Linked DNA regions of Homo sapiens. The protein of the gene in region 1 interacts with the protein of each later gene in a biochemical or structural test. Each region holds a gene or a part of one and is shown on either strand. Other genes may lie near its edges.

What was found.
Region 2: the proteins of GPC4 (region 1) and FGF2 form a complex in vitro, tested with the Homo sapiens proteins (one study listed by BioGRID).

Annotation. Positions count from the first base shown.
Region 1 is NC_000023.11:133,402,170-133,418,915, forward strand, and holds the start of GPC4 (glypican-4 precursor), read right to left. Parts: upstream 13,321-16,746; 5' UTR 12,797-13,320; coding exon 12,637-12,796; intron 1-12,636. UniProt on the Homo sapiens protein: Cell surface proteoglycan that bears heparan sulfate. May be involved in the development of kidney tubules and of the central nervous system.
Region 2 is NC_000004.12:122,867,685-122,884,430, reverse strand, and holds part of FGF2 (fibroblast growth factor 2 isoform 18 kDa), read right to left. Parts: intron 8,111-16,746; coding exon 8,007-8,110; intron 2,557-8,006; exon of another isoform or gene 1,189-2,556; intron 63-1,188; exon of another isoform or gene 1-62. UniProt on the Homo sapiens protein: Acts as a ligand for FGFR1, FGFR2, FGFR3 and FGFR4. Also acts as an integrin ligand which is required for FGF2 signaling. Binds to integrin ITGAV:ITGB3.

The DNA.
Region 1 (16,746 bases):
TTTACACTGCAGTTTGCAAGGACACAGTGCTTTGTTTTCATCTCTGACCAAACACCAGACCGAAAACTCAATGGAGACAAATGTGTGGTGAAATAGAAACAATAACTGAAGGAAAAAAAAATATTCTGGTGGCTTAATGCTTGCTGGGATGATGACGTCAAGGGTTTGGTGAACTAAGGAAATGTCTACAGTCCAAAAGAAACCACTTCCAGCCTGCTCTGGTAGGCAGAAGGTGAACAGAAGAAAGAAGACAGGCTTTAAGAGGCCTGCAAAAGCCAAACTAACAAAGTGGCTTTGCAAAGAAAGGACTAGCATGAAAAGAATGGTTGCGATGATGCAGAGATCAAGTCCTGACCCAAACCTCCAGGAGAAGAAGACGGAAGTGAGCACCTAGTAGAAAGGCTGATGCAACAAAAAGGGGCAAAGGTAGCCTCTTCTAAAAGCACCTCTGAGGCCAGGTGTGGGGGCTCATGCCTGTAATCCCAGCACTTTGGGAGGCCGAGGCAGGCAGATCACCTGAGGTCAGGGGTTCGAGACCAGCCTGGCTAACACGGTGAAACCCGTCTCTACTAAAAATACCAAAATTAGCCGAGCATGGTGGCGGGTGCCTGTAGTCCCAGCTGCACAGGAGGCTGGGGCAGGAGAATCACTTGAACCCAGGAGGCAGAGGTTGCAGTGAGCTGAGATTATGCCATTGCACTCCAGCCTGGGCAACAAGAGTGAAACTACGTCTCAAAAGGAAAAAAAAAAAAAAAAAAGAAAGAAAGAAAAAGCACCTCTGCAGGCACAGCCAAGTTCCTGCTAATGTCTGGAACAGACAGCGTAAGAAGTAGCAACCATTTGTCTACCGGGATTAAAACAAACCACATGAAATACTAAGCGCCCACCTCCAAGCAAGCCAAGAAAGAGCACCACGCTCTAGGTTAAGGGGTAAAAAAACATGTTTTCCTTTTCCTTTCCTTACTTAGGCATCTAGGACTGAATGTATGCAAAAGTTAAAAATAAATGAGATAGCTTAAAATAATTAGATTTAAAAAGGGTTATCTTAGCCTGTTTGGGCTGCTAAAACAAAATACCAAAGATTGGGTGGCTTCTAAACAACAGAAATTTATTGCTTGCAGTTCTGGAGGCCAGGAAGTCCAAGATCAAGATGCTGGTAGATTGGGTTCTGGTAAGGGCATGCTTCCTCATAGAGGGCCATCTTCTCACCGTAATTTCATGTGGCGCAAGTGTTAACGGTTTTCTCTGGGGCCTCTTTTATAAGGGCACTAATCACATTCATGAGGGTTTACCTCCCAGAGACTCCACCTCCTAATACCATCACCTTGAGGGTTAGGATTTCAACATATGAATTTTAGAAGAATAGAGTAAGAGCACAGCAGATATGAATAAAAATATCTCGTCCTGGAATGAGTACAGAAACAAAAAGTCATGCTTAACGTTCCTGAGCACCTACCACATGCCATGCAGTATGTTAGGAACTGGGGATACATGGTTTCTCAGATCTGGCATGATAGGGCACATAGAGCTGCCTTTTTTTTTTTTTGACAGAGTCTCACTCTGTCGCCCAAGCTGGGGTGTAGTGGTGTGATCTTGGCTTGCTGCAATCTCTGCCTCCCAAGTTCAAACAATCCTTGTGCCTCAGCCTCCCGAGTAGCTGGGATTACAGGTGCATACCACCACACCCCAGCTAATTTTTGTGTTTTTAGTCGAGAAGGGGTTTCACCATGTTGGCCAGGCTGGTCTTGAACTCCTGGCCTCAAGTGATCTGCCTGCCTCGACCTCCCAAAGTGATGGGATTACAGGCGAGAGCCACCATGCCCAGCCAAGCTTTGCTTTTTTTTAAGGTTCAAATAGCTACATAGTCAGACACTATCCTTAACTTCTAGTGTTTCTTATGATTATACATTTACCTAGTTTGGTAAATGTTTACAAGGGAAACCAGTATTCAAATGTGTCACCCTTAACGAGGAACCAACTGTTGTTGACTTCAGGTCAAAACTCAGTTCCCTAAACTGACCACAGCAGGTAGTACAGTATCAGAAACTAAGTTGAACCTAGATGTTCTAGAGGGCTTTCAAAAGAAGGTGCAGAGGGGCCAGGTGTGGTGGCTCACGCCTGTAACCCCAGCACTTTGGGAGGCCAAGGTGGGCGGATCATGAGGTCAGGAGTTCAAGACCAGCATGACCAACATGGAGAAACCCCGTCTCTACTAAAAAATACAAAAATTAGCTAGGCGTGGTGGGGCACACCTGTAATCTCAGCTGCTCAGGAAGCTAAGGCAGAAGAATCGCTTGAACCCGGGAGGCGGAGGTTGCAGTGAGTGGAGAATGCGCCATTGCACTCCAGCCTGGGCAATAGAGCAAGACTCTGCCTCAAAAAAAAAAAAAAAAAAAGAAGGTGCAGAGGGGCCGGGCGTGGTGGCTCACGCCTGTCCCAGCACTTTGGGAGGCCAAGGCAGAATCACTTAAGGCCAGGAGTTCGAGACCAGCCTGGCCAACATGGTGAAAGCCCATCTCTACTAAAAATATACAAATTAGCTGGACGTGGTGGTGCATGCCTATAATCACAGCTACTTGGAAGGCTGAGGGATAATCTCTTGAACCTGGGTGGCAGAGGTTGCAGTGAGCAGAGATCATGCCACTGCATTCCAGCCTGGACAAAAGAGTGAGACCCTGTCTCAAAAAAAAAAAAAAAAAGGTGCAGAGGAACAAAATCATAAACCACAAGCTCTGAGGTGAAAAAGCCACTGAATTAATAATATACAATTTTTAACACATTTTTTAAAATAAAAAGACAAAGTGACACGTAGATTGACTCCTTGTTGATCCAGCACTGTTGGGAAACTGGGTGCTCTAGATAGGTAAATGTGTAAGTTAACTAAATTTCCCCCTTAAGGGTAGTTTTCATATTTTGAATATTTCCAATAGAACTCTTTTTTTTTTTTTTTTTTTTTGAGACAGAGTTTCACTCTTGTTGCCCAAGCTAGAGTGCAATGGCTCAATCTCGGCTCACTGCAACCTCCACCTCCCGGGTTCAACTAATTCTCCTGCCTCAGCCTCCCGAGTAGCTGGGATTACAAGCATGTGCCACCACGCCTGGCTAATTTTGGCATTTTTAGTAGAGACGGGGTTTCTCCATGTTGGTCAGGCTGGTCTCCCAACCTCAGGTGATCCGCCCACCTTGGCCTCCCAAAGTGCTGGGATTACAGGCGTGAGCCACCGTGCCCAGTAATGGAACTCTTTCTAAAATGTACTTTCTGAACTTTTAAATCAGAATAAGCCAAACACCATTATTTAATACTGTAATGAAATATACTAGTGCCCTCGATGATTATGGTTACAAAGGTGGCTTTGAGCATTCGCCCATTCTAGGAGATCTCAAACTGCCAAGATCAGCAAGTTCTGGCTCTCCCATTCAGCTTCTGGTCACCCTCCAACTGTCCTCTCTCACTTCTTCCAGATGTCAAGTCTTACCTGCCTCTAACACGATCCCTTCCTGTGATTCCCATCGGCCCCCAACCAATACCATTTGCTACTTCTAATCTGCCATAGACTGGGAAACTGGATAACCAAAGCATTTTATCTTCTCACGTATAAACCCTATCTACCTAATTTGAATGCAAGTTCCTCAAAAGCTTGATTCCTGCTTGACACCTCTTGGAATCCCCTGCACCCAGCATACTGCTCTGGATACAGGAGCCATTCAATGATTGCTGATAATAAATTTCTGAAGGCCTTTTCTCCACATAGAATGCATGGGCTTTATGACAGCTGTTTCCATCATTTGGCTTTTCTGCTTACTTCCACATTCCCAGCTGTGTTCTGGATGGTTGCACCAGCTAGAAGCCTAGGGATTTACTGTACTTCTATTTCTTGATAAGATACTTGAAGAGAATAAACACATGGCAAAGAGGACATTAAAGTAAGGGATAAAGAGATTTATTTTAATTTTACCAATAAAGAAAAAGGGAAGAAATATCACCTAGCATGTTGACACTTAATCAATAAATGACAGCAAGGCTGGATTCTGTTCTAATTCTTTCCAAAGTATTCTCATTGTGCTTGTCTTATGTCTCTACCTGCAGCAAAGCAGCACTCAGTTGTGGTTCACACTTATATCTTGATTGAAAACATTTTCCTCCATGTTTGACACACCTTTCTCTTAAATCCAAGTTAGCCAAAATTAAAACAACCATGCACTGATTCTAAACTAAAGGCTTTATCTCAAACAACATTTTGTGATGAATCTCATTGGAAAATTTAGAATAATAGAATCTCAGAGATGGAAGGGACCTAGGCCAGGCATGCTGGCTCACGCCTGTAATCCCAGCACTTTGGGAGGCCGAGGCGGGCGGATCACGAGGTCAGGAGTTCGAGACCAGCCTGGCCAACATGGTGAAACCCTGTCTCTACTAAAAATATAAAAAATTAGCCAGGAGTGGTGGTGTGCTCCTGTAATTCCAGCTACTCAGGAGGCTGAAGCAGGAGAATCACTTGAACCCAGGAGGCGGAGGTTGCAGTGAGTGGAGATCATGCCATTGCACCCAGCCTTGGCAACAGAGCAAGACTTCGTCTCAAAAAAAAAAAAAAAAAAAAAAGAAAATTAAAAAAAACTACCATGGGCCAGGCACAGTGGCTCACGCCTGTAATACCAATACTTTGGGAGGCCAAGGTGGGTGGATCACTTGAGGCCAGGAGTTCAAGACCAGCCTGGCCAACATGGTGAATCCCCATCTCTACTAAACATACAAAAAACCAGCCGGGTGTGGCAGCACACACCTGTAGTCCCAGCTACTCGGGAAGCTGAGGCAGAAGGATCGCTTGAACCCAGGAAGTGGAGGCTGTAGTAAGTTGAGATCACGCCATTGCACGCCAGCCTGGGTGACAAGAGCAAGACTCCATCTCAAAAAAAAAAAATACACACACACACACACACATTCATCCATCCATCCATCCATCCATCATGGCCTAGTCCTTCCTGAAAAAAGTATTATTTCATTGGTATGGGGTGGTACCCAGGCATTAGTATATTTTAAAAGCTCCTCAGGTGCCAGGTGGTTCAATTTCACCCCATTTTTCAAAGAGGGAAGAACCTCACCAAAGGTATTTGACAACAAATTTGCCAGAGTTAGGCTAGAACTACTCATCCTAACAAGCCATGTCTTCTCCATGTAAACTACTCCATCTACAACAGTGGAGTCTCTTCCCTCCCTCACTCTCCCTCTCTGTCCAACTATCCCCACCTATCTCAAAGTAAATATATTTTCTGAATATTCTTTGCCTTAGAATCCCATTGCATAATTTTTAAAAACCTAAATGATGTATGTCTGCTTCCCTGTATCCTCATGCTTTTTTTTCCACACAAAGAATCCCGAGAGATCAATCAGGCATGGTTTACCCTTAAAGAAGCCATATTGCTTCTCCCTAGATAGGTTGGACTCAACCCACCCTTTTCACCATTATTATCACACATGCCATCTTTCAAATCCCTTGCAAGATTCAACTTCAATTCTCTGTCAGCCCACTTAATTTCTAGTTTGTACCTGGGCCTTGTGAAACCTAGTGGACTTCCCTCTTCTGGCTTAAACTCTTTGTATTTTGTGAAAGATGCCTTTTTCCCTGAAGCAGCCTCTTTTACTCTGCCAGTTAGTCATGCCGGGTTCTTTTTTTCTTCCCCCGAGCAGTTGGTCTTTTTGATGTCTGGCACACATTTATCTGGGCTTCCAATAAGATGTTTTTACATAGTTTCCAGGCTTCCTGGAGGTTATTGACTTTTTTAACTCTCCCATTCAGTTTTTTCCCCTAATTTCTAACATTTGTTAGAGTTTCTTTCTCAAAAGTTGAATACCTGGCTGATGCAGCTCTTTGATTTTTCTCTCCCACCAGATTGCTGAATTAAATGCATCAGAACTTAAACATAATATTTCAAATTACCTCCAGGATGGAATCGCTTCATGCATTTTCTGCACTTTCATGTTCTCTATAGTAAGCAACAGATGTTTAACCAAGTAGATTTGAAAATGCTAGTTTTTACCTGTTTGTATTTTAGTATGTCTGTTTATTTATATAAAATATTCTGATACCCTTCAAAGCTTGTGTTCTTCTTGGTAAAGACAATAAACTTGAGTTTTTTTATGTTAAAAGGTAACTGATGCACACTGAACAGTTGCATGTGGTAAATTTGCTCTAAATTGCCTAATCACAACAGTCTCAACTGTTCATTCTTTAAAGAAGTGTATCTCAAGGCATTAAGAAAAACAATTCTGAATCTTTCTGAAAAATTCCTGGCCAGTGCAGTAGCTCATGCCTGTAATCCCAGCACTTTGGGAGGCCGAGGTGGATCACCTGAGGTCAGGAGTTCAAGACCAGCCTGACTAACATGGAAAAACTCCATCTCTACTAAAAATACAAAATTAGCCGGGCATGGTGGTGCATGCCTGTAATCCCAGCTACTCTGGAGGCTGAGGCAGGAGAATGGCTTGAACCAGAGGCGGAGGTTGCGGAGAGCTGAGATCGTGCCATTGCACTCCAGCCTGGGCAACAAGAGCGAAACTCTGTTTCAAAAAATAAAAAAAAATCCTATAAGCATTCAGTTATTAATGAAGTGGTAAAGACAAGTACTCCCCCAAAAGAATAAAAACGTTCTCCAAGCTATACCAACATATGCATATTTACTTTAAATTTATTTCACTTCAAAGTGTTTAGATACAGGCCTGGAATGGTGGTTCATGCCTGTAATTCCAGCACTTTGGGAGGCTGGATCATTTGAGGTCAGGAGTTCTAGACCAGCCTGGCCAACATGGTGAAACCACGTCTCTACTAAAAATACAAAAATTAGCCGGGTATGGTGGCACACGCCTATAATCCCAGCTACTCGGGAGGCTGAGGCAAGAGAATCCTTTGAACCCAGGAGGTGGAGATTGCAGTGAGCCGAGATCACGCGACTGCAATCCAGCCTGGGCAACAGAGCGAAACTTCATCTTGGAAAAAAAAAAAAAAAATTAGCCAGGCGGTAGTGGCTCATGCCTATAATCCCAGCTACTCTGGAGGCTGAGGCAGGAGAATTGCTTGAGCCTGGGAGGCAGAGGTTGCGATGAGGCAAGATCACGCCACTGCACTCCAGTCTGGGCAACAGTGAGACCCTGCCTTAAAAAAAAAAAAAAAAAAAAAAAAAAAAAAAAAAAGTGTTTAGATCCAAAAGATTCCTAGGAGATCAACAGACCATGGAATGACAATCTATCATCAAGGCAGTATAATCTCATTGTAGCACTAGTGTCTGACAGAGAACACAATAGAATTGGCTATGTTATTCTCCCACTTGTTTAACAAATATTGCACTGACCTACCACACTTGGTACTGCTACCCACAGACAAGACGAGGAGTTGTCATCTTTGCCCTCAAGTTGCTTCCAGTTGAGAAGACAAACACGTACCTGCACACACAGTTAACTATAATACAAGGCAGTTATGTACAAAGACCATGGACTGGTTCCAACAGGGAATTAGGAAGAAGTGGGCACATAACCCTGGAGAGTTCAGAAGTGACTCAATGAAAGAAGTATCATTTGAGATGCTTGGAGCCACTGAAGCTCAAAGCACAGGAATAACTCTAATCAAAGCAGTGATGTAAGGAAATTAAGCTGGCGATGTTCAGGATAGAACAGGGATTTAGGAGGGGGGGACAGACAAGAGGCAGGTAGACCAGTTAAGAACTATTTAAAAAGAGTCTGCTGACAGACCTCCCTGTCTTTATCTCTTGCCTCGCCAACCCTTAACCCAAAGAGCCACTAGTTATCTTCCTAAAACAGCTTGACTGACGACATTCCCCTCCCTCAGAAACCCTCATTGGCTCAATTGTATTGTCCAGGAAATACAATTTATATTCCTTCTACCATTAACACTAGATTGTCTATGTCTGGGTTTGACATTTTGTCTACAAAAGATGTGACTGGATCCTCTCCACTATAACACGAAAATTGTGCCGTTTTGATGATGGTCTGTTACTAGTTAGCTGAGGGTCCTCCCATACTTTATATCTCAACAACCTCTATGGGAATAGAGAAGGTACTTTCTTGTCTTACTATCTGTACAACATAGCATGAACTATACTCTAGAACAGATAAGACCTGGGTTCAAATCCCACCTCTGTTATTCATTAGCTATAAGATTGTGAACATATTTCATAATCCCTTTGAATTTGTTTTCTTGTCTATAAAATGGAGATGATAATTCTGATGTCATATGGTTGTTGTGGGTTTTAAATGAGACAATCATGTAAGTTCCTTGGTATAGGGCCAGGCCCAGAGAAAGCATTCAATAGCTACGAACTCTTATCATGAGGCCAAAATACATTTTTAAAAACATAAATAAGAAAAAAACCTCAGTGCTAAAACAGTTAATGTCATTGGGGAGCCAGAGAGACTCACTTCCAACTGCCTCAGATTAACGCCAATGTTGTTTCCCTTGTACACATAACAAAAAACTTCCTTTTTCATTCCTCAGTCTAGTCTCCAGTTAATCCTGAAATTGCATGCAACCCAACGTGAATCAAATAAAAAAGGAAAACAGTAATTATGCTGAATCAGACATTTTATATTTATATGTTCTAACCAGAGACTGAGCTGCATAAGCCAGAACTTTAACTAAATTCTTTTTTGAACATGTCCAGAAGATACCTCCTGTAAACTACTTGGGACAATTTCTACAGTGATAGGCCCTGTGGCTCAATTCGACCCTCCCCAAGTGAAACACAGAGCCAAATTGATGATTCCAACAAAACAGGAGATCACAGATTCATTGCAAAATCCAACACATTACTTACGGTGGGGAAGGCGGAATACAAATCTTAAAGACACATGCTGTGTGTCATATATAATCAACTCACTATTAGAAAGTATTGCTACCTCTCCAACACACATACACACGTACTTTTTTTCCACGTAGTCATAACAGCTTATAGGAGTCCTGGAATCCTTTGTGCATGTACATATGTATGTGTGTGTGAGCACATGATCATAGGTGCATTGCTCATGAACACAGAAGGGAACAAGAAATAAAAACTCCAAAACTGCAACTAGGGCACAAAGTTCTGAGTATCATTCAATGTCATTGTGAAGAGGACCTTTGGCAAGTTCATGAATGCTTCTAACCCACTGCCTCACTCTTAAAAACAATTTCAACATAGATGAGTAATAAAATGCCCATTGTTGCATACCCTTTACCTTTGTCTTTATGGAGGGAGGCATAATGAAAATGGTTAGATTTTTAAACTTATCTTCATTAGTATTTTCATTTTTACTAGTGAACTAGCTTTACCCAGTTAATATTCTATAGTATTAGAGTCCTAAATCCCTTCTCTCTTTGAAATGCCTGGGCACTCCCTTCTCGTCATCTGTATCGCTTGTATGGCACTTATCACCACTGTGTTGTATTCTAATTTTGTGTGTGCGTGGCTTATCTCCTTACTAATAGGAAAGGTCCTGGTGGCAGAAGCCCCTCCTGCCTTTCTTGCTGTCTCCACAATGCTGAGCAGAGGATACTGCACATAGTGGGCGCTCCAAAAGTACATGGCCATTGAAAGCTGAACAAAAACATAATCTTTGTGTTAAAGATCCCTTTTGATCATGGCACCTGGACTCAGCATTATTTGAAAAGTACAGGGGTCAAGCAGACAGGCAATGCAGGACCTCAGTTGGAAGCCCTGTCAGCATGATGTACTCCCTGACACCCTTGAGAGCACATCAGATGATCCTAACTATGATCTATAAAGACTGAGACTCCTCCAGAACATGGAGTATTCTTAAAGCCTGTTCAAACCTCTAGAAGGCAAGTGCAAGGCCATCTGGAATAAAACATTAAACTTGGGCTGAGCCTGGGGCTCAATGAGCTAGGTACCCAGACTTTGTGATACTTCACCTGGAAAATGATCCTGGGTGTTTTGCACTGAAAAAAGCACATTCCCCATCCCAGGCAAAGTGCCTGGCAATTAATCCATCCAGACCTAGGCTGAATACAAGTCACTATATTGACTATCCCCCTTAAAAAATGACCAAAATTATCTGAGTGTAGCTCAGAGAAGACAAGGCTAATGTATGCATCTGGAGAGGCCAGGGTGATGGTAAAGATTACGCCTGTTTCTATACTGGCCGTCTAAAGGTATTTACTTGGGTCTGTCTGTGTTGTGACAGTGTCCTAGACTCAAATGAATGCCTCTAACACTCCACATTTTTGAGCCATTCAGTCATGCATTTTTGTTATTGTTGAAAGTGGTGCGAAATTGCACTGCATGAGCTAAAGTCCTTGGTGGTCTTCCAAGGATTCCAGCTAAAAAGGCACTTCCTTTGTTCCTCAGGAGAATGCAGTCCAGTAGGTCATTCAAAAGGGGAAATAAAAGCAGCAGCCCAGGGAGGGAGATGAAGGACAAGACAAAAAGAATAAAATGTTTTGGGTGTGAGCACATTAGCTTCCATTTCCTGCTGCTGGTCACTAATAACTCCCCTATCTTTGGCATGGGGGAATGTCCAGATAGACATATACGCAAAATATCCCTCAGGTGATTTCTGGGGATGATGACAATCAAAGGGAACACCTAGCACAGAGTCTCTGAGCACCCTTCAAGCTTCCTTTTTCCTGAGATGCTGGCTGGGGAAGATGCCCTGCCACAGCGAAAGACTGCACAGAGCAAAGTTGGGGAAACTGGGGAGGGCAGTTTCACAACCCCACTCGCTGAATGCCTGCAGTCAATATCAAAGGCACATATTGTTTGCATGAGCAGAAGATGAAACCTTGTCACATTCCCATTAAGTGCAGAGCTGCATCTACCCCTTCAAAATGTGGGAATGACAACTGTAACCTTCACGCCAATCATCTCCGCTGTGCCCAGGCCTAAACTGTGCAGGGCACAAAGACCCCAGGTTTGACCTGCAGAGTCCCCAAGCTTCAGCGGCTGGTGGTTCACTTCATTTTTTTTCTGGCGGGGCAGGAGGAAGGGAAAGAAAGAGGGCTTTTCAGGGCTCTACAACCAATAAAATCGTGCCGCTTTGAGGACATACTTGAGCTCCCCAAAAGACAGGCAGCTGAAGGGCAAACAGTGTCTAATCAGTAGTGAGCATGTTATTTGGTAACTGCCAAGGTGCAGTGGGCGCCTGGGCTGCTCCAACAATTTCTTCGCTTCTATTTCTAGACAGACGCCAGTTACACTCCAAAAGTGCCCAGCAACTTCCCTCAATTACCTTTGTAATTAATATGTAATTGATGACTGCACTTAATCTCCAAGGTTATTAATAGCCCTTCCAAAAAATGACCCCCAAATCTTCCTAAGCCTTTGGAAGCGCCTGGTTGAAATTACAGTATTTCCTTTGCTGGCTGCCGGCCCCCTGCCCGCCCCACCCGGAGACCAGCACGGCAAGGCAAAGGCGCGCTCCACTCACTTCCATGAAAGGTTCGGAGTGGAGGCTCAGCCCCCCCCCCGGGCTCGAATCTCTCACTCCTCCGTTAGATTACGCTGGCCACCAGCCAGCTAGATTCGTGGTGCTTTCTGAGCCCCCAGGGCGAACGGGCTACCTGCGCGGCCGGCGGGGCTGCGCGCAACAGTTGGCCGCTGCTAAGAAGACAGTGCGACCCGGAGGGGACCCGGCCGGACACCGCCGCCAGCTTCGCTGGGAGGGACGCAGGGCACCCGCCGAACGCTGCCTCCCCAGCGCTCCGAGAGGGGCTTTCACAAATACCCCCATACACCCCCCATCCCACCCCACCGGCGCCAAAATCCGGTGAACTTTCTCACAGGCTAAGCCGTCTCTATTTGCATAACCATCTCCAAACTGAGATTCAGGTTTCCTGTAATCAGTCCTTTCAAAGGTCTGTAATTGAAAGTGCAATTAACCCTTAAAATGAGGTAAGAAAAAAGAAAGAGGGGAAAAATACTCCTCTGGTCTGATACCTTCCGGAAAGTAGGAGAGTTCCCAAAAGTCAGGGTTTGGAGGGGTGGAGAGTGGGGGTAGTCGTTTGCTTTTTAAAGGCGACTTCTGAAGCGGTTGCGGCTACTAAAACTCCTAATCCTTGTCAGCGGTGCAAGAGAGGCGGGGAGAGAGTTTTAAAAGAACATCAATGAAACATCAATTCAAGTTCCACGTTTTGCGACCCCCAGAATCTAGCAAGCTCCGGGACGTTTCCCTCCACCACACCCCACTGGCGACCCCCACCCCCACCCGGCCTCTCCTCACCCATACAACAAAGCGGGGCGTCCTATAAGGAGTTCAACCCGGAAAAGGAGAAGTAGCCGGTGACACGCACTTTGAGGGCCACAGTCCTCAGGGGCTTCCCGGGACGGCGAATAATGCAGGGGGGAGAGGAGGAGCGGAGGCGGGGAGCGGAGCGCGACAGTCGCACTGGGCAACCCGGCGGCGCCCCTCCGCTCGCAGTGCTGGGAAGGGGGGAGCGCTGCGCCCGCGGGGAACGTCCTGCGCCCGGGCTGCCTGGCTCTCTCGCTCGCTCGCTCCTGCCCTCTCGACTGCCCATTTCTCCCTCTAGTGTACCTGCGTCCGGCGCAGGGGGCGGCGGGGCGGGGGAAGGGAGTTGCAGCCTCCCTTCCCGAAGTGTCGGTCTCTGCGCCCACCTCCCGGGTGTGCCCACCTACCGTTGATCTCGTGGAGGGGGGCATCGTTCTTGTTGAAGCCTTTGGACACGTAAAGACGTCGCACTTCCGAGCAACTTTTCGACTTGAGCTCGGCAGCCAGCAGCGCGGCGCTGAGCACTGCCAGGGTGCAGAGAAGCGCGGGCAAGCCGAACCGTGCCATGGTGCGGGCCGGGGCGGACGCGTTCCCACCTTTGGGACCGGACGGGAAGCGGCGCTACGGCAGCGGGCCGAGGGCTGGCGGAGTCGGGGACTAGCGAGTGGAGCTGGAGGGAGAAGGAGTTGGAGTTGGTGGAAGAGGCGAGCAGGCGGAGGAGACGCGGGGCGAAAAGTAGAGCTGGGCCTCGCGTCAGGCAACGGTCCCCGGTGCCAGGCGCCGGGCCAGGGGAGAAGGAGGGCGTGGAGGCGGCGCGCGGCCCAGGGAAGCAGAGGCGCGGGCTGGTGACCTCGGGGTTTCGCGGGGCAGCGAACCCGGCAAGCTGACTGGCCGGCGAGGCGGGGACGCGGGGAAGGAGGGAAGGGTGGCAGGCGCCGCGGGGACCGCAGAGGGTGTGGGCGGCGGCGGGCGTTCGCTGCGCGCTGCTTGGGCTGCCCTGCGCTGGTCCGCTCGTCCGGCTGGACTCGGCTCGGCTGACTCTGCCCTCCGCCGCGCGGCTGTGCCCTTCTCAGCTCTGCCGCTGATTGACTGGCCGGCGTGCGCGGCGACGCTCCGCAAACTTGGCCAAGCGGGCGGCACTCGGGGGGAGGGGGCGGGCGTCGTGGGGGGGCCGGAGACAGGCGGGAGCACGCTGGGCCGGGCCGGGAGAAAACCTGGAAGCCGGGTTGGATCCGGAGCGGCCAAATCCACTTCCTAGGGGGCCGCACCGGGCGCCCGGCGCTCCTTCGCGTGACACGCCCCACCCGGCTCCTCCTTCCTCCCCTCCTCCTCGGAGGCGGGGAGCCAGCCCACCGCCCCCCAACCACAAAGGGAAGGCCAACTACTCCGGGCTGAAGGGCCCAGGTTCTGGGGAACGGGACGGCCTGGGACTTGTCCCGAAGCCCATGTCTGAGCCCCAGGCCTTCTTGCGCGCGGCCACCTGACCCGCCGCCTATGGGCAAAAGCCGCGCGGAGCCCTCCCGCCGCGATATCCGCCTCCCCGCTGCCATCCCGCACCCGCGGACGCTCCTATCCGCGCAGCTCCCGGGCTGGGCGGGGAAGGCACATTACTCGCATTGTTTCGCTGCAGGCAGCAGGGGGATTTGGGGCTCCGAGCTCGTCCTAGAGCCTCACCTGGTCTCCCCAGACCTGCTTCCCATAGGACGGTACTCGTGAAACACCAGTTTGTCCAGGACCCCATCAGGCATCCTCCTTCCCGCATCCGCAACACTCCAACCCCTCGACGCCACTCCCACCCCCGACCCGGTTCTACTACAAGTCTAACCGAACTCTGAAGCGGGAGAAACCCCCAACCGCGAGGTGAGGGGGCAAAGACAGGGTTGACCGCAGAGATCTTGGAGACCATTTGGCCCAACCCTTCCTTCTATTAAGGGAACTGGGGCCCAGAAATGGGAAGCGACTTGGTAAATAGCACGCCGGGGAAGGGGGCGTCCAGAACCCGGGACTCTTGACTCTCGAATTTCATGGAATAATGGTAGCCCAGGACTCCCAAACCCCCTACCCCCTCAAGCCCCTTGAGAGAGACTGACACCCCTCTGGGACTCAGTCCCCACTTTTCCACCAGAAAACTGGAAATGGGAGAGACTTCCCATCTTGCAAGCTTTGTCAGATTCCATTAATGAGTGTTTTTTTGAAGCTCCCAGCGCTCCTTAAATGAAGGGAACTGTGCAGCTCGGGAACTTGTCATTACCGTTGTTATTGTTACAATCTGCTTTAAGAGGTTGGGTTGAGAAGTGCCTCAGACACCTCGGGAGTGTGCTGGGAACTGGGCAGATAAAAAGGGCTGGAACTTATTATTTGGCTAGACTCTCAATTCCCATAAAATTACATAGGGCAAAGATACGAACCATCATTACAGTTATCACCCTCAGAGGGTTTGTTGAGACTTTCTCCACTGTTGTTTGTAAACCACGTTGACATGGCTGGCTATGAGGAGCTGTTATTTTGAATACCTGCTTGCAGACTCTTCTACATTTTGTTAACAGACTATCAACATGAACAGACTGTGACCCGTCTATAACTGTGACTTCCAATTTCTGTGGGCTGGCTGAATATTTAACTCTGAAACTAGGAGAGCAATTTTTTTAATGTGCAAACTCAACTACAATTGAATTTCCTGCCATTTTCAAGACTTTCCTTAAACTGGTAACCATCAAGTCCTGAAGGCATTGCTAGGGCTTAGCTGAGCACTTTTAATTTTCATTGATTGATACATTTACTTAAAGATGTTCTTCACCAAGGAGAATATGCTCTGAGATGCAACGAGCATTATTATAAAATGGAAGCCAGTGACCGTAAGAGAGAAAATGATACTCCTGAACCATGAAGGCCAAATCAGAAAGCTACTTCTCACACCAAGGCTGGGAGGAACTCATTCGTTGCCGCCGCTCCCCCCCGCCGCCCCCGCCCTCCCCAGGTTTACTCCTGCTCTTCCTCATAATGTATTATTAACCCAAACTTGAGCCTTTTCCACCAGAAACAGTAACCTCTGGCTACAAACAGATCTGGACAAGTCTGAACTTTACCAAGGGAGGCAGGAACCCCAAGCCGTGCTCAGAGGCGGCTCCCACTTCAAAGCCTCCTTTCATTTAAATACAAACAGGGTGAACAACTGGCAATCTACGAAACAAATACCATCCAGAAGGGAAGCTTTCTTTTCAGATGGGCCAGAACTCCTTCTTCCCTCTCCCACTCCCATCCCTGCTGTCTTCAGAAGAGGCTTCTTAGTGGAGATGCACCTACTCCTTGTAAGTTCTCTCAACGCCAAAAAATAGAGACTGCATGTTGACTGCAAAAATCGATGACTTCTCAGGCTGATTAACCGTCATATAACTTTTTTTTTTTTTTGCTTTTTAGAATTGTGGTAAAAAGCACACACATACGCAATTTGGTATCATTTTAACCATTTTGAAATGCACACTTCAGTGGCATTTAGTACAATCATAATGTACAATCATCACCACTAGTTACAGAACATTTTCATCACTCCAAAAGGAGACCACATACCCATTAAGCACTCAAAGTTCATTCTCTTCTCCTTCCAGTCCCTACAAACCACTAATTTGCTTTGTCTCTATGGATTTGCCTGTTCCAGACATTTTGTAGAAATGGAATCATACAATACAGGGCTTTTGTGTCTGACTTCTTCCACTTAGCATCATGTTTTCAAGGTCCATCCATATGGTAACATGTATCAGTACTTCATTCCTTTTTATGACTGAATAATGTTCCATTTACGGATATACCACATTTTGTTCATATAGCACTTTACAAGTTTGCACAGTGCTTCCAGGTGCACCCTCATATCTTAGAATATTTTGTTTTTTGTTTGTTTGTTTTTAATTGATAAGCAAACCAAGTCTCAGCAAGGTTCTGTGGCTTCTCCACAGCCACAGAGCTCTTGGGTGGCTAAACCAAGACTGAAATCTAAGGCCTCTGACCAAATCCCATGCTATTTTTGTTGTGGTTGTTGTTGTTGGTCAGAGAACACAGTGCTCTGGGTCTCTTTTACTGTCAGCAGTGAATGTACAACTGCCAAGGTCCTGTGGAAGTATCTTTGTTTTAGATTGATAAATGTTCATTGAACACCTCCTATGTGCCTGACAATGTTCAGTCCTAGAGGAAGGGAAGATGTATAAGCCAAAAGGAGTTTACAGTTTTATAAACGGTGTGCAAAGGCTTGCTTAGATAGAATGCACTAATGGTATACTTGTTTTTCCCAGGTCAGGAGTTTCCCCTGATATGACACTGGGAGGGGGAGGGTACATTTGCTGGTGGGCAGAGAGAACAAAGAATGCATTCCCATGCTTCTGTCCTCCAATCCAAGAGAACTGGTTGAGCCAGGTCTACTCTCTCAGCTTTGAGGACACTTCTCATGGCCTGCTGGGGAGCTACCCTGATTTCCAAATATGGGGCTGGGAAGAACCAAGCCTGGACACAGTGGCTCATATCTGTTA
Region 2 (16,746 bases), on another chromosome or scaffold:
GTCCACCTCCCGGGTCCAAGCAATTCTCCTGCCTCAGCCTCCCAAGTTGGCTGTGATTACAGGTGTGCATCACCATGCCCGGCTAATTTTTGTATTTTTAGTAGAGATGGGGTTTCGCCATGTTGGCCAGGCTTGTCTCAAACTCCTGACCTCAAGTGATCCACCTGCCTTGGCCTCCCAAAGTGCTGGGATTACAGGCATGAGCCATTGTGCCAGGCCTAAATTTGATCTTAAACCTGTAATACCTATAGGTTGCATAACAGTTTTAAGATTGAGTTATAAAAGAACAGTAATTCTCATTATGCAATAACCTTTGTATTTTTTCTAGTATTTTATCTCTTAAAAAGGATATATATTCCTCTTCAATTACTGTATTTTTCTCACAAATTTCATCAGTATAGATTGTCAGTCTGGATAATTGGGCTCTCAGATATCTATTTTCTCTACTTTACTTTATTATAGATTTCATGTCATTGTGAAGGCCCCTCAATTAAGAAAGTTATTCTGTAGGTAAAATGTATTTTACTTTTACAGAAATTACATGTATATCCTCAGAGAATATACATTTTTTCATATTTCACTATTGTGGATCAATGCAAATTACATTCTAATACTGAGATATTAATATTTTGTTCAGGGTATATCATGATCTATATAGCATTATATAGAAAACAATGTGCAACTTTCTGGCAGATGAAGATCAGTAAAGTTTTTTCATACCAATGCTAACATTGAGGTCATTTGGTGATTTAAACTTAAAACTACAATTAACTTCACTTTATGCAATTTTCTTAAAAATCTGTAATTTTGTGAACACTTAAATCATCAATTCTAATATTTGTTCTGGACTTCTGTTGCTCATAGCAACAAAATTTATCCTGCTATGGAATGGAGTAAGAAGTCTGTTGTGCATTAAAGAACTATTTAACTTCAGCTTCCAAATACAGGCTTTGGCAATTAAATATAGTTATTTTTTGAATTTTCCTATTTCCTAGCTTCAAAAGGAAAGGAAAGACCCTTAAGAAATGTTTTCAAACAACACAAAATCGGTAACCTGAAAACATGCATACCATTAATATGTGAAGGTGTTGGGGAAAAAACGGTATACAAATTAGTCTTTTTTCATACTCTAATTGGTAATCAACCTAACATAACTCTTAAAAACCAAAATGTTTTTTGTATCCACAGCACTCTTCTTTCTGGGAGGAAACTAGACTGCTTTAGAAATCACTGCAGGAATCACAGAGTAAAATGGAGAAGAACCCAGGGATGTGTCATAACACAGTAGTCTGAAAAAGGGCCAGGTAGAAGAGTGGGAAGGACTATGCCTCTGGCAAGTGCAAGTTCATAAATTCCAGTTTCTTCAAGTTACGAGGCACATCTGCATCCCCAGATGATGGCTACTGGTCAGAACACTGAACTCATACCAAAAGCTGCTGTTGTTGACAGTTTAATGTCTATGGATCTGACTCGGAGAGAAATGTGCCACTTACTGAATCACCAACACCATATCTTTGGTGTTGAGGTGGGGCACGCTTACTTTTTCATCTGAAGATTGACACAGCCCACCAAGAACATTTGAAAGAGACAGGATTGCTGCTGAAAAGGCATGACATCAAGCCACACAAATTGGATGGTAAGACTAGAGATTAACTTGTGAACAGGTCGTATGACGAGAGCTGAAACGTACAACTGGATCTTGGTCATGCCATTCCTCAAAGGAGACTAAGAAATCCTGAATTTTTAATTTATGCTTAATAGCCATGGCTTTGTCTCTACAGAGTGTTTGTGATACATTTCTAAGCATTGGTAAATTAATTCTTACTGCACCAACTTGGTGGAAATCTGTTCCATCAGAAAGAGTTAATACATCCAAAGAGATAGAAACACATTTAAGACTAACTTTCACAAGTTCCTGCTTAGCTAAGAATGAAACTAGAAAACTTTATTTTGAGTATTTTACATTTCTGATGGTACAGAATCAACAGTTTGGGAAGCTTAATACCTATTTGCCAAGAGAAAAAGTCAGAATTCTCTTTTCAGGTCTACATTCTTTTAACTTGTCTCATCTTTTTATGTACCCTAGTAGTTTCAGAGATACACTTGAAGATAGAGCAATTTCTGTTTTCATCACTTTTAACAACAATGGGTCTTTTTATCATTGTCAATGAATCAATATTCAGCCAGTGCTCCTGAGGAGATGAAAAATTCCACCGGCAATTATCTTACAGAGTCACCATGATTACTAGGTTATATGGTTTGGCTGTGCCCCCACCCAAATCTCATCTTGAATTCCCATGTGTTGCGGGAGGGACCCAGTGGGAGGTAACTGAATCATGGAGACAAGTCTTTCTTGTGCTGTTCTTATGATAGTGAATAAGTCTCATGAGATCTTATGGTTTTATAAAGAAGAGTCCCCCTGCACAAGCTCTCTCTCTCTTTGCCTGCTGCCATCTATTTAAGATGTGACTTGCTCTTCCTTGCCTTCCGCCGTGATTGTGAGGCTTCCCCAGCCATGTGGAACTGTAAGTCCAATTAAACCTCTTCTTTTGTAAATTGCCTAGTCTTGGGTATGTCTTTTATCAGCAGCATGAAAATGGACTAATACAGTAAATTGGTACTAGGAATGGGGTGCTGCTGAAAGATACCCAAAAACGTGGAAGTGACTTTGGAACTGGTTAACAGGCAAAGGTTGGAATAGGTTGGAGAGCTCAGAAGATGACAGGAAAATGTGGGAAAGTTTGGAACTCCTTAGAGATTTGTTGAATGCCTCTGACCAAAATGCTGATAATGATATGGACAATGAAATCCAGGCTGAGGAGGTCTCAAATGGAGATGAGGAACTTGTTGGGAACTGAGCAAAGGTGAGTCTTGTTATGTTTTAGCAAAGAGACTGGTGGCATTTTGCCCCTGCCCTAGAGATTTGTGGAACTTTGAACTTGAGAGATATGATTTAGGGTATCTGGCGGAAGAAATGTTTAAGCAGCAAAGCATTCAAAATGTGATTTGGGTGCTGTTAAAGGCATTCAGTTTTATAAGGGAAGGAGAGCATAAAAGTTTGGAAAATTTGCAGCCTGACCATGGAATAGAAAAGAAAATCCCATTTTCTGAGGAAAAATTCAAGTGGGCTGCAGAAATTTGTGTAAGTAATGGGGAGCCAGATGTTAATCACCAAGACAATGAGGAAAATGTCTCTGGGGAATGTCAGAGACCTTTGCAGCAGTCCTTCCCATCACAGGCCCAGAGGTTTACAAGGAAAAAATGGTTTCATGAGCTGGGCTCAGGGTCCCTCTGCTATGTACAGTCTAGGGACTTGGTGCCTTGCTTCCCAGCTGCTCCAGCTGTGACTAAAAGGGGCCAAGGTACAGCTCAGGCTGTTGCTTCAGAGGGTGCAAGCATCAAGCCTTGGCAGCTTCCACATGGTGTTGAGCCTGAGGGTGCACAGAAGTCAAGAATTGAGGTTTAGGAACCTCCGCTAGATTTCAGATGTATGGAAATGCCTGGATGCCCAGGCAGAAGTTTGCGCAGGGTTGGGGCCCTCATGGAGAACCTCTGCTAGGGCAGTGCAGAAGGGAAATGTGGGGTCAGAGCCCCCACACAGAGTCCCTATTGCAGCACCACCTAGTGGAGCTGTGAGAAGAGGGCCACCATCCTCCAGACCCCAGAATGGTAGATCTACTGAGAGCTTGCACCATGCACCTAGAAAAGCCACAGACACTCAATGCCAGCCTGTGAAGGCAGCTGAGAGGGAGGCTGTACCCTGCAAAGCCACAGGGGCAGAGCTGCTCAATATGATGGGAACCCAGCTCTTGCATCAGCATGACCTGGATGAGAGACATGGAGTCAGAGGAGATCATTTTGGAGCTTTAAGATTTGACTGCTGGGCCAGGTGCAGTGGCTCACGCCTGTAATCCCAGCACTTTGGGAGGCCAAGGGGGGAAGATCACGAGGTTGGGAGATCAAGACCACCCTGGCTAACATGGTGAAACCCTGCCTCTACTAAAAAAATGCAAAAAATTAGCCGGGCATGGTGGCGGGTGCCTATAGTCTCAGCTGCTCGGGAGGCTGAGGCAGGAGAATGGCGTGAACCCGGGAGGTGGAGCTTGCAGTGAGCCGAGATCATGCCACTGCACTCCAGCCTGGGCAACAGAGCGAGACTCCATCTCAAAAAAAAAAAAAAAAAAAGATTTGACTGCCTCACTGGATTTCAGACTTGCATAGGGCCTGTAGCCCCTTCATTTGGGCCAATTTCTCCCATCTGCGATGGCTGTATTAGCCCAATGCCTGTACCCACATTGTATCTGGGAAGTAACTAACTTGCTTTTGATTTTACAGGCTCATAGGCAGAAGGGACTTGCCTTGTCTCAGATGAGATGTTGGACTGTGGACTTTTGAGTTAATGCTGAAATGAGTTACGACTTTGGGAGACTGTTGGGAAGGCATGATTGGTTTTGAAATGTGAGGACATGAGATTTTGGAGGGGCCAGGGGTGGAATGATATGGTTTGGCTGTGTCCCCACCTAAATTTCATCTTGAATTTCCATGTGTTATGGGAAGGACCCAGTGGGAGGTAATTGAATCATGGGGACAAGTCTTTCCCATGCTGTTCTTGTGATAGTAAGTCTCACAAGATCTGATGGTTTTATAAAGAGGCCTTCCCCTGCACAAGCTCTCTCTGCCTACTGCCATCCATTTAAGATGTGACTTGCTCTTCCTTGCCTTCCGCCATGATTGTGAGGCTTCCCCAGCCATGTGGAACTGTAAGTCCAATTAAACCTCTTTCTTTTGTAAATTGCCCAGTCTCTGGTATGTCTTTATCGGCAGCATGAAAATGGACTAATGCACTAGGTTACTGCATCTTCTAATCTCAACAACACCACAGGGTAACAACTAATCTCAAGGCATTCACTGACCCAGATTATGGCAGACATATAAAAGGCTGGAGCTTTAAAACCATTTTATTAGTGCTGTCCATAGTTAGTTATAACAGGAGCAAATGTTGTGTGCAACTCCTTTTTTTTCCTCTACCACCCTCACTGTCTGACAGTAGCCAAACCAATTCTACTGCAGAAGCATAGTGATTTGTCACATCCTAAAGTGAAAGGGGCAGGAGGGTTGGAAACTCATCTTCCTCTCACTAATAAAATGTCAGTCATCCAAAATTACTTATTGGTTCACTTTCATGGGAGATATTTAAAATGCTACTTTGGTAGATTCCCAAACTATTACATCACCTCTTGAGCTGACAATAGATTGGCAGAATAAAAGGCAAGTACAGAGTAGAAGAAGTGAAAGTCCCAAGTAGTTAATGTTTTGAGCTGTATTCTTTACCTAGGAAACTGCATACATTCCCCCAATTTAACTACCACCTATATGCTGATCATACCCAAATCTATCTAACAATCAATGTAGACTGTTCCTCTAAGCTCCAGATTTATAATTTCAACTACTCACTGAACATCTTTACCTGAATTTCCCTTAGGCAACTCAAACTAAATAGGTCTAAATTCGAACTTACTACCTTTTCCCAAACCTTGCTCTTTTCTTCCTTCCCCTTTCTCGTCTACCTTCTCACCCAAACCAGCAACCTAAAAGCCATCTTTGACTTTTCTTTCATCTTCAGTCCTAAATCTAATCAATCACAAGTGCTAGCACTTTCCTCACTCCTCTCTGACCTACTGTTATTGCCAGGATCAGAACATGACTTGCTTGGACTATTACAGTGGCCTTCTAACTGATCTCTCTCCACCAGTCTTGGCCCCCTCAAGTCCATTCTCTACACTTCTGCCAGGATGATCTTTCTCAAATTTAAATCTAATTAGATCTCTTCTTAAAACTCTTCATGGCTCTCCACTGCTTATAGTCAGCATGGTGTATAAAGCCCTTCAACAGATTCAGCAGACAGTCTATCTACCTCCCCAGCCTTCTCTCCCTTCCCTTCCACCTAGTTACTCCATTGCACTATACATTCCAGCATTAGTTAATTACTTGTAATTCTAGAGATACATCAAGTAGATTTTTTATCCACACCTTTTCATGTCCTATGTCCTAGAGTTATCTATACCTTCATCTCAATTTCTTCTGCCCCATGACTGCCTGCTGAACTCCTTCCTTTACAACGTCTAAAATTCTACTTATAGGTCATCTCCCCCAATTCTAGAAAAATGTAATTACCTCATTTTCTATATTGCTTCCTATATCATAATACTTCTTATCCTTTCCTATATTACTATGCATGTATGCAAAATATAGAAGTAGCATATCAAAACCCTTATACATTATTATAAATACTTATTTACACTTCTGCCTCCCCTGGATTGTCACTCATTAAGGGCAGAGACAATTTGATATTCAATTTTATAAGCTCAATGCCTACCATAGCATCTGGCACACTTTCACTTAATAAGTATTGGCTATTCTTAAAGAGAATTCTAAAATTTATTCAACTACCTCCCCCCAAAATTGAGAGCCACTACACTCAAACTTGTGATTTATCCTGCAAAAATTACATAAACTGGTAATATCAATGTAAGTATATCTTTGTCATACAGTCAGTCTGAAATTGGGATAGTTTAGATACCCTTTTTCTCTGTAAGCCTTGTTTTGGTGCTTTTAGAAATCCAAAGGTCTTCATTCAGAAGAAATTTCAAAAACTATTTGTATAGCTCAAAATACCACAATTTCTTAGTACTGTTAGATCCTTTCTGTGGGGAGGTTATATAGAGATGTCATAACTGGCCAGTGGCATTGGTGTAAGAGCTGTGAAACACACACACGCACAAACATTTACATACATGTCCTATCTACTCCCTCACGGAGACAGGAATGAGATCTGTCTTTTATATTTATTTTCCTGCACCATTCTTTATACATCATATGTTCAACAGATATGCAGTCCCGTTTCTAATAATAATGGTGAAGTTGACAGGGAGCCTGTACTAGTGGAAAGAATACTAGCCAGGAACTAGGACCCCTGATAAGCTGTGATAACATGTAAAAAAGAAAAGTTCCTCTCTACAGCCAGGCACGGTGGCTCACGCCTATAATCCCAGCACTTTGGGAGGCCAAGGCAGGCGGATCACCTGAGGTCAGAAGTTCAGGACCAGCCCAGCCAACATGGCGAAACCCTGTCTCTACTAAAAAATACAAAAAAATTAACCAGGCATGGTGGTGCATTCCTGTAATCCCAGCTACTCGGGAGGCTGAGGCAGGAGAATTGCTTGAACCCAGAAGGCAGAGGGTACAGTGACCCGAGATTACGCCACTGCACTCCAGTCTGCGCAGTGGAGTGAGACTCCATCTCAAAAAAAAAAAGAAAAAAAAAAGTCCCTCTCCTGACATATATGTAAATGAGAAGTAATGTGAGGAAGAAGTAACAATTTTCAGGATCTATTACGTGTCAGATGCTGATTTGGGCACTTGATGTGTAGTATCTAATTAAATTCTGATAAAATCCCAATGAGATAGTATCATTGTTTCTATTTTACAGGTAAGAGAACTAACTCAGAATCATTTGCCCAAGAACACAGAGCTCATAAGTGGCAGAGTCGGCATCTGTACCAGGCAGAAAGCTTACATTCTCAACTAGTGTTCTACATTGCTAGTGTTTTGTACGTCACATTCTAAAGAAGAAACTTAAAAACTAATAATCAAAATTGTATACATTTATTCCCAATGATCTTCAAACAACTGCATAATAGAAGAAAATTTTTTTTAAATTATAGCTTAATAGTTTTGCAGAGTAAAAGCAGTGACTTAGAGGTCAGGAATGCCTCCAGCCCAATCCAGTCTCTACTTTATATGAGCTGTGTTTTCTTACTTTACTTACTCCCTCAGCACATCAGTTTTTGCATCTGTGAAATAAAGAAAATACTCCCTATTTTACAGGGTGACTATGACGATGATACACGTAAAATCCTTTATAAAGATTTGATAAACAACAATGCTGGTAAATTAACAGCAATAAAAGCTAACAAAAAACGTGTGAAAACAGAAAGTATGCTTACAGAAGCCAGTAATCTTCCATCTTCCTTCATAGCCAGGTAACGGTTAGCACACACTCCTTTGATAGACACAACTCCTCTCTCTTCTGCTTGAAGTTGTAGCTTGACTGTAACGGGAAAAAAAATTATCTTTGTAGCACCACAGAGGAAAGAGCCTTCTTCACAATATTTACGCAATATAAAGACAAAACACACCTAAGCAACAACTAATCCACTTTGGAGGATTGGTGAGGTTGGGGGTATGGGTGAGTGACAGGGAGCAGATGTCAACTAAACTGTATGAGAGAGGATGAGATGCAGAACTACTAGGGCACCAGTGCCTTGTGAGTTCCTTGTCGCTCCTGTGTCACAGGGTGAGCAGAGAAGGTGTCACAGGGTGAGCAGAGAAGGGGGACACACGGAGAATTGTTTCCTTTGTTGGGCAGTTAGCTTTCAATCGCCCCTGTTAACTATTTACATTTTTTAAAGTGAACATATTTTAAGGGTACATAAAAGTGTAGGAGAATTCCCATGCTACTGCCTATGTTGAAACTATTTAAAAGTTATTTGCCAATTCTTCACAAATGAAACAAAATCTAGTTATTCACTGTTATAATTTGAGCTGTATTTCCTTGACTTTTTGAGACGGAGTCTCTCTCTGTCACCCAGGCTGGAGTGCAGTGGCACAATCACGGCTCACTGCAACCTCTGCCTCCCAGGTTCACACCATTCTCCTGCCTCAGTCTCCCAAGTAGCTGGGACTACAGATGCCCACCACCACGCCCAGCTAATTTTTTGTATTTTTAGTAGAGACGCGGTTTCACCATGTTAGCCAGATGGTCTCGATCTCCTGACCTCGTGACCCACCTGCCTTGGCCTCCCAAAGTGCTGGGATTACAGGCATGAGCCACCGCGCCCGGCCCTATTTCTTTGACTTCTACACATCTTATTTCTAGCTTCCTCTTCAATGAACTATAGATGCATTTAGCTTTCTATATGGGATTTTGATGTCTATTTTTTTGTGTGCAAATATCTATCTAGTGGAAACACAAAATGCTTATACTTAATTTGCTTACACAGCAAATGATTTTCATAAAATAAGTGTGATGAAAGATTTTCATAAAATAAGATCCTGAGAAAGATGACTTGTCACACCACATTATCAATATTAAGCAGATTACAGAAAAACAAAAAAAAATTACTTAATTATGATGATAATGTAATATGGACAAATAATTACCTAATTAATTGAAATAAAAATGAAGTAAAGATTATTTTGCTATTCAGAGGCAGCATTCTCCTGCCTAGAACAATATTCCCCCAAATATATTTTTGCTAACAGATGTTAAATAAAAAATAGGTTCTGGTGTCAAATAATTTAGGAAAATCTTAGTTAAACCAAGTTAACTCTTTATTACCAAACTTCTCAGAACTCTGCTTATCATAAGATAAACAAGATAAATGTTTGTCCAGACTATTTTCATAGGTCATCCCACATCCTATGGATATGTTTAGGATATTCTTGAGAGCAACAGAAAAAAATGCAATTTTAGAAATCAGCATATTATCATTTGAATAACATTAGAAATATAAAATAAATATAATTTCCAGGTGTTTATAGGTAGCTAGGGAAACGGCATGAAAAAGCAACTTTTGAAAGTTTCTTAAATAATTAACTTTGTTAGATATCATTATGTCATAGTAATTTATGTTTTAAAATTTTTCCTACCAAGACAGCAACAGACATGCAAAATGAAACATAATATCTGGGATTAGCTTTAAAATAAGCTAATATATTATTTTAAATAATAGATAACTAAATTTTTAATAAAGTGGATAGGATAAATAAGATTCACTTGTGTTAACAGTCATTAGAAGCACAGGATTTCATTATTCTAATCTCACTACTTTTATGAATGTTTAAGAATTTACAATTTAAAAAAAAGACAATCTTAGAATTTTGTTGAACATTTCATGTCTGAGTCACCTCTGTGTGTCAGTCACCCCTGGATTCCAGAAAGCATTGCATCATTTAAGCCTACAGTTACCCAAGTGAAATTCTTCTACAAAATCTTAAAAGATAATACGAAGTAAAAGGAATGTAATGAAGACATGAAACCCAAACAATGAAGGGTATGAAGTATTTTTTACAATATTATTGGAAAATGCAGAAAATAAGCTTTGTTTTTAATCAACATAACCAAACTTATCTTAATGAGTATAAGCAAATTATTGCATACAGCTCTAAAATGATTCAGATAAGCCATTTTAATGAAGAATGCATTTGCATCTCACTTTAACTCATAAGGATGTACAAATGCCCATGAGGCAAGGCTGAATAATCAATCGCTATACTTTCTTTCTGTCCCTTATCAATCAACGCTAGCCCAGCTCTGGTCCACCATCTTATAAATGTGTATTACTAGTCATGAGGGTGATTAGGGATATTCGTGTATGGCCAGATCAGTACCAGTGACTCAATACCCAAAGTAAACATAATTCATTTACTCATTAACCTTTTGTAGACCTCAACTATTCCCACACTCAGGGATTGTTGTCATTCATTAAACCACTAAGCAATAAGCATTACATGTAAGATTCTTGAAGAGTGTTTCCATTGGCATATAATTTTTAAATTACAAGTTTTAAAAATAACCAGAGTCTACAACAAGAAGTTGAGGAAGTCACAAAATCATAGATTTTCTATAAAAACTATCTGAGCTGAGATGCATAAAAAACCTAAATAAACTAAATTCAATATACAGATGATCTCTTCCCAAAATAGAGATGCATAGCTGCTTCATCTCCTAAATAAATTCGATATACAGATGACCTCTTCCCAAAAAAGAGATGCATAGCTGCTTCATCTCTGATAGAAGGAGGAATAAACTTGCCAAAAATGGGACCACGAAGAAACCAGCTGAATTTTTAAGAAACTTTTATTAGCTGCTGATGTGAGGAATTAGAATTCTGAAGAGCCCTGATCAAAGAGCAACTCCATATCCACCTGCCAGTTCTTTCCCATAGAGCTTCCACCCAGTGCACAAGTACCACACACCAAAGGCTAGGAACAGAACAGAAGGGCTAAGAGATCCTCTTCAAGTACACTGGGCCTTTGCAGAATGCAAGGCAGCAGTCCACTGAAGGCTGGGAGCAGGTCAAAGGGCTGAAAGTGATCCTTCTGAGAAGCACTGAGCCTTCACCAAATGCAAAGCCAATGACCAGCAGGATAAAGAGAGATCTTCCAAGATGTGGAAAGCCAGGAGTACAGTTCAAGAGCAAGGTTAGCTCCCCACCAACCCAAACATTTGGCAGCTGAGTTATAAGGGCAAAATGAAATATTTTAAAACTACTCAATTAACCCAAGAAGGCAGAAAGGGAAAGACAGAAGGTAAAGGACAGATAGGATAATTAGAAAAATAGCAAAATGTGTGAATTTGATTCTGTCGTCATGCTGCTATTTGGTTATTTTGCACACTAGCTGATGCAGTTTCTTCATAGTGTCATTGGTCTTTATATTTTGGTGTGTTTTTTGCAGTGACTGGTACCGGTTTTTCCTTTCCATATTGAGTGCTCCTTTCAGGAGCTCCGGTAAGGCAGGCCTGGTGGTGACAAAATCCCTCAGCATCTGCTTGTCTGGAAAGGATTTTATTTCTCCTTCGCTTTTGAAGGTTAGTGTGGCTGGATATGAAATTCTGGGTTGAAAATTTTTTTCTGTAACAATGTTGAATATTGGCCCCCAATCTCTTCTGGCTTATAGAGTTTCTGCTGAGAGGTCTGCTGTTAGTCCGATGGGCTTCCCTTTGTAGGTGACCTGGCCTTTCTCTCTGGCTGCCCTTAACAGTTTTTCCTTCATTTCAACCTTGGAGAATCTGACGATTATGTGTCTTGGGGTTGATCTTCTTGTGGAGTATCTTGGTGGTGTTCTCTGTATTTCCTGAATTTGCATGTTGGCCTGTCTTGCTAAGTTGGGGAAGTTCTCCTGGATAATATCCTGAAGTGTGTTTTCCAGCTTGTTTCTGTTCTCCCTGTCTTCTTCTGGTACTCCAATCGATAGTAGGTTCGGTCTTTTTATGAAGTCCCATATTTCTTGGAGGCTTTCTTCATTCCTTCACATTCTTTCTTCTCTAGTCTTGTCTGCATGCCTTATTTCAGCAAGGTGGTCTTCAAATTCTGATATCCTTTCTTCTACTTGGTTGATTTGGGTGTTGATACTTGTGTATGCTTCACGAAGTTCTCATGCTGTGTTTTTCAGCTCCATCAGGTCATTTATGTTCCTCTCTAAACTGGTTATTCTAGTTAGCAATTCCTCTAACCTTTCATAAAGGTTCTTAGCGTCTTTGCATTGGTTTAGAACATGCTCCTTTTAGCTCAGCGTAGTTTTTTATTACCCATCTTCTGAAGCCTGCTTCCGTCAATTCGTCCATCTGATCCTCCATACAGTTCTGCACCCTTGATGGAGAGACATTGCGATCATTTGGAGGAGAAGAGGCACTTTGGCCTTTTGGGTTTTCATCATTTTTTCGTTGATTTCTTTCTCATCTTTGTGAGTTTGTCTATTTTCAGTCTTTGAGGCTGCTGACCCTTGAATGGGGTTTTTGTGGGGGATTTTTTGTTGTTGTTGATGCTGTTGTTGTTGCTTTCTGCTAGTTTTTTTTTTTTTTTTTGTCTTTCAATGGTCAGGTCCCTCTTCTGAGGGCTTCTGCAGTTTGCTGGGGGTTCACTTTAGGCCCTATTCTATCTGATTTGCTCCTGCACCTGGAGATGTTACTCAAGGAGGCTAGAGAACAGCAAAGATGGGTGCCTGCTTCTTCTGTGTCCTCTGACCTCGAGGAGCACCAACCTGATGCCAGTAGGATCGCTCCTGCATAGGGTGTCTGACAACCCCCTGTTAGAGGGTCTCACCCAATTGGGTGGCACGGGTAATAGGACCAGTTTGATGAAGCACTTTCTCTCTTGGTGGAGGGGGTGTGCCTCTTAGAGACCTACAAAGAGACTTAGACTCCTATGAAATAATAGTGGGAGACTTTAACACCCCACTGTCAGTATTAGATCAATGAGACAGAAAATTAACAAGGATATTCAGGACTTGAACTCAGCTCTGGATCAAGTGGATCTAGTAGACATCTATAGAACTCTCTACCCCAAATCAATAGAATATACATTCTTCTCAGTACCACATGGCATTTATTCTAAAACCGACCACGTATTTGGAAGTAAAACACTCCTCAGCAAATGCAAAAGAACTGAAATCATAACAGTCTCTCAAAACACAGTGCAATCAAATTAGAACTCAGGATTAAGAAACTCACTCAAAACCACACAATTACATGGAAATTGAACAACCTGCTCCTGAATGACTCCTGGGTAAATAATGAAATTACGGCAGAAATGAAGAAGTTATTTGAAAACAACGAGAACAAAGAGACAATGTACCAGAATCTTTGAGACACAGCTAAAGCAGTATTAAGAGGGAAATTTTTAGCACTAAATGCCCACATCAGAAAGCTTGAAAGATCTCAAATCAACACCCTAACATCATAATTAAAAGAGCTAAAGAGGGAAGAACAAACTAATCCAAAAGCTAGCAGAAAACAAGAAATAACTAAGATCATAGAAGAACTGAAGGAGATAGAGACACGAAAAACCCTACAAAAAAATCAATGAATCTAGGAGCTGTTTTTTTGAAAAGATTAACAAATTAGACCACTAGGTAGACTAATAAAGAAGAAAAGAGGGAAGAATCAAGTAGACACAATACAAAATGATAAAGGGGAGATCACCACTGACCCCACAGAAATAGAAACTATCATCAGAGAATACAATAAACACTTCTACTCAAATAAACTAGAAAATCTGGAAGAAACTGATAAATTCCTGGACACATACACCGTCCCAAGGCTAAACCAGGAAGAAGAATCCCTAAATAGACCAATAACAAGCTCTGAAATTGAGGCAGTAATTAATAGCCTGCCAACCAAAAAAAGCCCAGGACCAGACAGATTCACAGCTGAATTCTACCAGAAATACAAAGAAGAGCTGATATCATTCCTTCTGAAACTATTCCAAACAATTGAAAAGGAGGGACTCCTCCCTAATTTATTTTATGAGGCCAGCATCATCCTGATACCAAACCAAGAAGAGACAGAACAAAGAAAACTTCAGGCCAACATCCCTGATGAACACTGATGTGAAAATCCTCAATAAAATGCCGGCAAACAGAATTCAGCAACACATGAAAAAACTTATCCGCTGCGATCAAGTCGACTTCATCCCTGGGATGCAAGGCTGTTTCAACATACACAAATCAATAAATGTAATCCATCACATAAACAGAACCAAAGACAAAAACCACGTGATTATCTCAATAGATGCAGAAAAGGCCTTTGATAAAATTCAACACCCTTTTATGCTAAAAACTCTCAATAAACTAGGTGTTGATGGAACATATCTCAAAATAATAAGAGCTATTTGTGACAAACCCACAGCCAATATATTGAATGGGCAAAAGCTGGAAGCATTCCCTTTGAAAACTGGCACAAGGCAAGGATGCCTCTCTCACCACTCCTACTCAACATAGTATTGGAAATTCTGGCCAGGGAAATCAGGCAAGAGAAAGAAACAAAGGGTATTGAAATAGGAAGAGAGGAAGTCAAATTGTCTCTGTTTGCAGATGACATGATTGTATATTTAGAAAACCCCATCATCTCTGCCCAAAAACTCCTTAAACTGACAAGCAACTTCAGCAAAGTCTCGGGATACAAAATCAATGTGGAAAAATCACAAGCATTCCTTTACACCAACAATAGACAAGCAGAGAGCCAAATCATGAATGAACTCCCGTTCACAATCGTTACAAAGAGAATAAAATACCTAGGAATACAGCTAACAAGGGATGTGAAGGACCTCTTCAAGGAGAACTACAAACCACTGCTCAAGGAAATAAGAGAGAATGCAAACAAATGGAAAAATATTCCATCCTCAAGGATAGGAAGAATCACTATCGTGAAAATGGACATACTGCCCAAAGTAATTTATAGATTCAATGCTATTCCCATCAAACTACCATTGACATTCTTTACAGAATTAGAAAAAACTATTTTAAATTTCATATGGAATGAAAGAAGACCCCGTATAGCCAAGACAATCCTAAGCAAAAAGAACAAAGCTAGAGACATCACACTACCTGACTTCAAACTATACTACAAGGCTGCAGTAACCAAAACAACATGGTACTGGTACCAAAACAGATATATAGACCAATGGAGCAGAGCAGAGACCTCAACAAAAGCAATTGCAACAAAAGCCAAAACTGACAAATGGGATCTAATTAAACTAAAGAGTTTCTGCACAGCAAAATAAACTATCAGCAGAGTGAATAGGCAATCTACAGAATAGGAGAAAATTTCTGCAATCTACCCATCTAACAAAGGTCTAATATCCAGAATTTATAAGGAACTTAAACAAATTTACAAGAAAAAAACAACCTCATCAAAAAGTGGGCAAAGGATATGAACAGACACTTCTCAAAAGACAACATTTACATGGCCAACAAACATAAGGAAAAAAGCTCAACATCACTGATCATCAGAGAAATGCAAATCAAAACCACAATGAGATACCATCTCACACCAGTCAGAATGGTGGTTATTAAAAAGTCAGGAAACAACAGATACTGGCAAGGCTGTGGAGAAATAGAAACACTTTAACACCGTTGGTGGGAATGTAAATTAGTTCAACCATTGTTGAAGACAGTGCGGCAATTCAAGGATCTAGAACCAGAAATACCATTTGACCCAGCAATCTCATTACTGGGTATATACCCAAAGGAATATACATCATTCTACTATAAAGACACATGCACATGTGTGTTTATTGCAGCACTATTCACAATAGCAAAGACATGGAACCAACCCAAATGCCCATCAATGATAGACTGGATCAAGAAAATGTGGTACACACACACCGTGGAATATTATGCAGCCATAAAAAGGAATGAGATCATGTCTTTTGCAGGGACATGGATGAAGCTAGAAGCCATCACCCTCAGCAAACTAACACAGGAAAAGAAAACCAAATACCGCATGTTCTCTCTCGTAAGTGGGAGTTGAACAATAAGAACACATGGACACAGAGTGGGGAACAACACACACCAGGGCCTGTTGTGGGGTGGGGAGTGAAAGGAGGGAACTTAGAGGATGGGTCAATGGGTGCAGCAAACCAGCATGGCACACGTATACCTATGTGCACGTTCTGCATATGTATCCCATTTTTTTAGAAGAAATTTTAAAAAAAGAAAAATAGCAAAATGTCAGATTTAAACTAACCATATCAATAATAACACTGAATATAAATGTCCAACACACCACTAAAAGGAAACAATTGTCAACAAGATGAAAAAACAAAACCTAACTATGTTGTTTACAAGAAAAGCACCTTAATTTACTAGGCAAGTTAATAGTAAAACTGTGGAAAAAATGGGTAAAATGCAGACCTTCAGTATAAGAAAGCTGATCTGGCTATATTAATATCTGACAATATAGCTTTGAAGGCAAGTAGTATAACCAGAAATAAACAGGGTCACCATAATCATCTTAAATGTTTAGCAGCTAATAATAGAACTCTAAAATATCTGAAGCAAAAACTGACAAGAGAATAAATCATTAAGAATATGGAAGGTGTGAACAGCATTACCAATCGTGATTTAAATGATACTGTTGTTTAAATCAGGTAAGTTTCATTTACCTAAGACTTCATCCTCCTA